2 separate regions of the Homo sapiens genome follow, and region 1 is linked to region 2. The links come from fine-mapping of genetic effects on gene expression. A gene starts in region 2. The other region holds a variant in brackets. All regions are shown on one strand. Distances are from middle to middle.

Region 1 (2,827 bases), 97 kb after region 2:
ATAGGAAGGCATCTTAGATGCTCACCTATACAGTCTCAGTGCTAATAAAATGGAATGGCGTGGGTGCTGGGTGGTTTATAATGTGATGCCTGTGGGTGGAGAAGTAACTCACGGATCTTGGCCTTTTCACTCTTCACAGAAACTGCGCCAAGGCCAAGTCATCACATTATACGGGCATTATGTGCTGGGGGGGTTGGGGTGGGTTGCAGGATGGGAGCCTTGATGATGAGGATGGGCAGTGATGCTGCCTCCACCAGCCATCAGCCAACCACAACCACAATGTACATCCTCTTTGTCTGCCCTTAGCTTTGGGACTGGGTAGCAGGGAGAGGGAAAACTATAAGAGCATTTCAAAGAAGGAGGGAAGTTAATACCTTGAAAGGAGAACTGACGTAGAAGCACTCCATTGTCCTTACCTCAATCTGGAATGGGAGATTCCCATCTGTCAGATCAGGAAGGATAATGAGCTTTGAAAAGCACTGAAAGGCTGGGCGTGAGCCACCACGCCTGTAATCCCAGCACTTTGGGAGGCCAAGATGGGAGGATCACTAGAGCCCAGGAGTTCAAGAGCAGCCTGGGCAACACGGCGAAATCCTGTCTCTACAAAAAATATGAAAAAATTAGCCCGGTGTGGTGGCAGGTGCCTGTAATCCCAGATACTCAGGAGGCTGATGTGGGAGGATCATCTGAGCCCAGGAGGTTGAGGCTGCACTGAGCCATGATCACACCATTGCATTCCAGCATGGGCAACAGAGTGAGACCCTACCTAAGAAAAGAAAGAAAAGAAAAGAAAAGCATTGGGAAAGGAAGAGGGTATGGTTTAGAAGGCAATAAGAAATCTTAGGAAGAGTGGAGGGTGGTAGGCACAAGGGATGGTATTAATAAAGGCAGAGGGAAGGATACAGAGGAGAGGGGGGGAAACACAAGGAGGATGTGGGCCGTCTGGCCAGACCACCTTGGTGCCACAGTGGTGACCAAAGTAAAGAGGTGGGAGAAGCTGCTTCCCTCATTTATCTGAATTGTAAGCTCAGCAACACTGGCCCAGTAGAAATTCATGTACCTGTAGCAGAAACTTAGCTAAACACCCTTGTCCTTGAGGCATTTCCACATTTTCAGCTTATTTCGAATTGTTGCCAGCCCAGTTTAATGGTCTTCAGAGCCATCCTGAGTAAATGCTGGCTTCAGGTCTCCAGCTTTGCATTGTCTACTTTTGATCTCTCACTAAAAGTAAGATGAGAAGTTGAAATTGAGACAGCATATTCTAAACTAGCTGAGCCTTTGAAGAATTCTTATTAGAAAAAATGAAATTGCTTGCGTGAAGTGTGATGGTGTGTTAATACCTACCTAGTTACCTAGTATGAGAATGATCTGAATTGTTAAAAGAAACAATAGGAAAACATATTAGGCATTGTTATTTCAACAAGAGGATTTTAAATGTGTGTCATTTGAGTATGTTTATCTTTTAACCTCAGCACTCTACACCCCCAAGTGCATATGGGTCTGTCAAAGCCTATACTAACTTTGATGCTGAGCGGGATGCTTTGAACATTGAAACAGCCATCAAGACCAAAGGTAGGTGATACATTTGTCCTCTTCTTGTCAGGGTCTTACTGAGACATTTTTGGTTGTCTCTTTATTCTCCCTCAAATCGCCATACGTTGGCGATTTGAAATTGTCATCGAGCTTTAATGGAGTAGATCCAGACCTAGCTCAACCCATGCCTCCTTTCCTTCCTTCCCTCCTTCCTTTCTTTCTTTTTCCTTTTCTCCTTCCCTCCCTTCTCCCTTTCTTCCTTCTCTCCCTCTTTCTCTTTCTCCCTTCTTCCTGCTCTTCCT[TCCTTCCTC/C]CCTCCCTCCCTCCCTCCCCTCCCTTCTTTCCTTTCCTCCCTCCCTTCCATTCTTTCCTCCCCCACCCCCCGTTTCTTCTCTTTGGAGAGATGTACAGCATGAGATAGTATTTTAACCAAGTAATGGTTAAAAGGAATCAGTCTGGGAGCCGGATCTGGTCCTAGGGGTATGCTTTTGGGTGCAGCTCTTCACTTTGAGGCTTCAGTCCCTCTTCTGCAAGGAAGAAGTTGGTCATAGTGGTCCCTAAGGGCATTTTTTGTTCCAAGTCCCCTTTAATTTAATTACATTTGCTGGGAAAATCTTACTGCATTGCTCTTAGATTGATCTAGAGAGTGAAAAATTCAGACTTTTTTTGTTTTTTTTAAACCCCGGTAAGTTCTGCTGCTCCTTAGGCCTGGAGCTGGAATTAGAAGAGCTGTCAGAATGAGTGTATTTCCTCAAGTTCTAGGATGAGTAAGAGAAGACCAGGAGGCGTAAAAGCCTTCCTCTTGAAATAAAGCAAATAAAGTGCTAACTGGTTAGGGTTGAGCAAGAGCTTCTTATGGTCATTATATTGTTTTCTGGGTCTACAAAATAGGATGTTCAGACTTTCTGGGCTTATATTAATTAAGCAATCCTTGGGGTTGTCCCATCCCCTGAATCCCTGAAAAATATTGCAGCTCTCGTGGTGACTTTTGTGATTCTCCACTTTTCCCCCCTTGGATAAAGCACTTCCTTTCACCATGAGGCCAGATTGGGATGCAGACGTGACCCAGCACAATTAGAGCTGCTGCTGGTTCGTGCCCCTGGTGAAGAGCCATGTCACATTTTTCTCTTCTATGTACAGCGTTTTAACTTACTGACACACTTATATAGTTCACATACGGTTCGTTGAAAGACTGAGAAACCTCAACCAGGCTGACCTGGGAACCTATAACTAGGATGACGTCCTGGTTTATGCCTGCGTATTTACTAATAGTGCACCTTTCACTCTCAGAACTGTC
Region 2 (2,901 bases):
ATCAGTCTAAAATGTCAGCCAGGGGTAGTGGCTCACACCTGTAATCCCAGCACTTAGGGAGGCCAAGGTGGGCAGATCACTTGAGGTCAAGAGTTAAAGATCACCCTGGCAAACCCCATCTCTACTAAAAAAAAAATACAAAAATTAGCCAAGTGTGGTGGCATGCACTTGTAGTCCCAGCTACTAGGGAGACTGACGCAGGAGAATCGCTTGAACCCAGGTGGCAGAAGTTGCAGTGAGCTGAGATCACACCACTGCACTCCAGTCTGGGAGACTCTGTCTTAAAATAAAATGTAGAACATGCTTCCCTAATAGCACACACTAGATTCTGTTTATGCAATAAGTTTATGCAGTTCCTTGTATTAAAAAAAATTATAGGAGGCCATTGTTTAGAACTTCTGCACTAGACCCCAAGAGACCAGACTAAAATAAAAATGGTATCACTCAGGCTCACCACACCGAAACTGAGTTATGTGGCCCTCCAAGAAATCAGGAGACAGAGGTAACAGGCCAGTTTCAATTTTCAATCAGCAAGATAATGAATTTCCTCTGTTTTAGTCCCTACAGCAAAGAGTAACTTGAAGTAACCTGATGTTAACCAATCAGTTATCTTTCTATTGTACTGTCTGTCTCCACCTTACCAGGAAAGTAACTTTGAAATGATCAATCTGCTTTTTGTTCTTTGTTTCTACTTTCTACAGACCTTTTTTCTGTCCGTAATGCCAACCTCCTCTGTTCCACTCATTGGGACACTCATTCCATTTTATGGAATGAAGTGTTGCCTGATTCCAGAATCGCAATAAGGCCAACTGAGATCTTTAGATGTGTCAAATTTTTGTCTTTTGACACTTGTGCTGGTCTGTCTAGAACGCCCTTTCTCTTCATTCCACATACCCACATTCTTCAAATGAGCTCACACGGCAGGTGCTCAGTGCAGCAACTGACATGTAAGTACTCAATACTATTCAAAACTGCGTTTTGTCCCTCACACTAGCTATTCCTCTCCCTCTAACCTCAATCTATACACCTTTCTTATGTAGTTTATTACTTTCTATTGTATTTAATGTAAATGTCTTAGATTGCCAGAGATCCAAAGCACTGGAAAAATCAGTATTCAGTCTTAGTCCATGTGTACCCAGCACCAAGCACAAAGTACTCTGTTTACGGTCAATAAATCTTTCCGTAATGGATGAGAACAAAACTAGTGTTTGAACTCACAGCTAAAACTGGATGGGGAGTGGAGCGGAGGTGAAGGAGCACTTAATGAGGCCCTACTATGTGCCAGGTACTGTGCAGAGCACAGCTTCTTCCTTTGTTTCATTTAATCCTTTCCAAAAAACCGTATGATGCAGCAGTAACAATTTCATCTCCATTTTACATATGAGGAGTTTGGGTTACGGAAGTCAGGAAACTTGCCTGAGGTCACAACCAAGTATGTTTGGGTCTTTCCAGTACCGCACTTGTCGCTTGTCCGCCTTCCAATTTATCACTCCCCTCCTCTCCCCGACGAAGGTCGAGGACTTTCTAGGAAAACACGCAGTCTCCAACCACTTCCGCCTGGCGAGCCCAGTCTCGCACTTCGCTGCCAGAACCACAGCGAGCGCTTGTGGCGGGAGGAAAGGAGGGGAGCAGCCGTCAAGACGCAAGGCCCCGCCCACTATGTCGCTGAGACGTCATCACGCAGGGCCGAGTCGGCGCGGCCACATCCTTTAAATATGGTCTTTTTTGGGCGCGCGCGACAATGTGAGGAGTGGGGTGGAGCGTGTGTGGTGTGTGGCTGCGGCCTGGGCAAGAGCCGCCGCGGACCATGAGGTGGGCGGAAAGGCTGTGTTGCAGCCCAGACGCGGACGGGAGGGCGCTGCCGGGCCAGCGGGCGTGCTCATGCAGGGGCGGGAGGAGGGAACATGGCGGCCGGGCCAGGACCCTTTGCTCCTGGCTCTGCGCGGCTCCTACCCCTGCTTTGCTTGCCCTTTTACCTGCTTTTCTGGAACCTTGTTTCCCCTCTCTTTGCGTCCCCTTTCCCTCAGCCGTTTCTTTTGCCTTCCTCGACTATTCCCCCCCAGCTCCACACTGGGTCGAAGTGTGAGAGGTAGATTAAGTGGGAGCCGGTCGGGCCCGTTCGGTGTCGAGAGACCGACTCCTAAATTTGATTAGGTTCTCGCAGGTCACTTTATCAGTCTGCCTGGGGTCACAGGAGAAGTACTGAACATGAGAGATCAAGCCTGATTTGTAGTCCTGATGATGTCTGTAAGTGATCTTGTGAAATGTCACTTAAGTTGACCTCAAGTCTTCTCAAATGTGAGGTTCTTTGTGAAAGGCCTAAGATTCCTGATATCGAGGTAGCTTTTGTCATAAAGTGCCTGCCAGAATCTGCCCCATAACAAAGCATGGTCGGGAAAACAAAAGATTTATTTTGGCAGTAAGGGAATGGAAAACTGAGTTGACTTCCCGTTCCATGCCATCAAGTGGCCTAGTATGTAAGCAATGAGAACACCGTTCTGTTTCAGCTCTTATTTCCATAGTGAGTGTCCTGAGAGTAACACTCCCGGCGTAGATTAAATGGAAAAGGGCTCGTCCTGTATCGTCATTGCTGCTCTGCTACAAAGAACCTTGGGTCTGCTGTATTCTGTTTTAGGTGCCACAGTCTGTTGAGGGTAGATGTTTAGGGAGAGATTCTTCCTCACCTAATAGCACCTGGCCTAGCCAATCACTTGCTTTTGATCTTGGCCTTTTGTTTTTACTCAGCTGAGTAAGTTCTGGAGGGATCCTGCCTCTTGGAGCCTTCGCAGCCAGGCAGCTGTGAACTGTGAGCTAGAGTGAAGCAGAAATCTAGGAAGATGAGCTCCAAGATGGTCATAAGTGAACCAGGACTGAATTGGTGAGTTGTAGCCACTTTGTAAT

The links. PIP is the estimated chance that this variant, and not a neighbour inherited with it, causes the effect.
Region 1: its variant is fine-mapped to the expression of ICE2 in whole blood (INTERVAL, PIP above 0.99).

Annotation. Positions count from the first base shown.
Region 1 is chr15:60,381,087-60,383,913 of GRCh38, reverse strand. ANXA2 (annexin A2) reads left to right here. Exons shown (of 13, transcript NM_004039.3): 3 at 1,473-1,572. Among named protein-coding and RNA genes, the nearest start is that of ANXA2, 15 kb to the left of the region's middle. The variant TCCTTCCTC/C (reference allele first, on the strand shown) is at 1,836.
Region 2 is chr15:60,477,914-60,480,814 of GRCh38, reverse strand. It overlaps ICE2 (interactor of little elongation complex ELL subunit 2), which reads left to right and starts at 1,673. Exons shown (of 16, transcript NM_024611.6): 1 at 1,673-1,812; 2 at 2,746-2,878. The coding sequence starts at 2,838. RORA-AS1 (RORA antisense RNA 1) reads right to left here and starts at 1,637. Exons shown (of 6, transcript NR_120342.1): 1 at 1,417-1,637. RefSeq lists enhancers at 1,872-2,399, 2,722-2,841.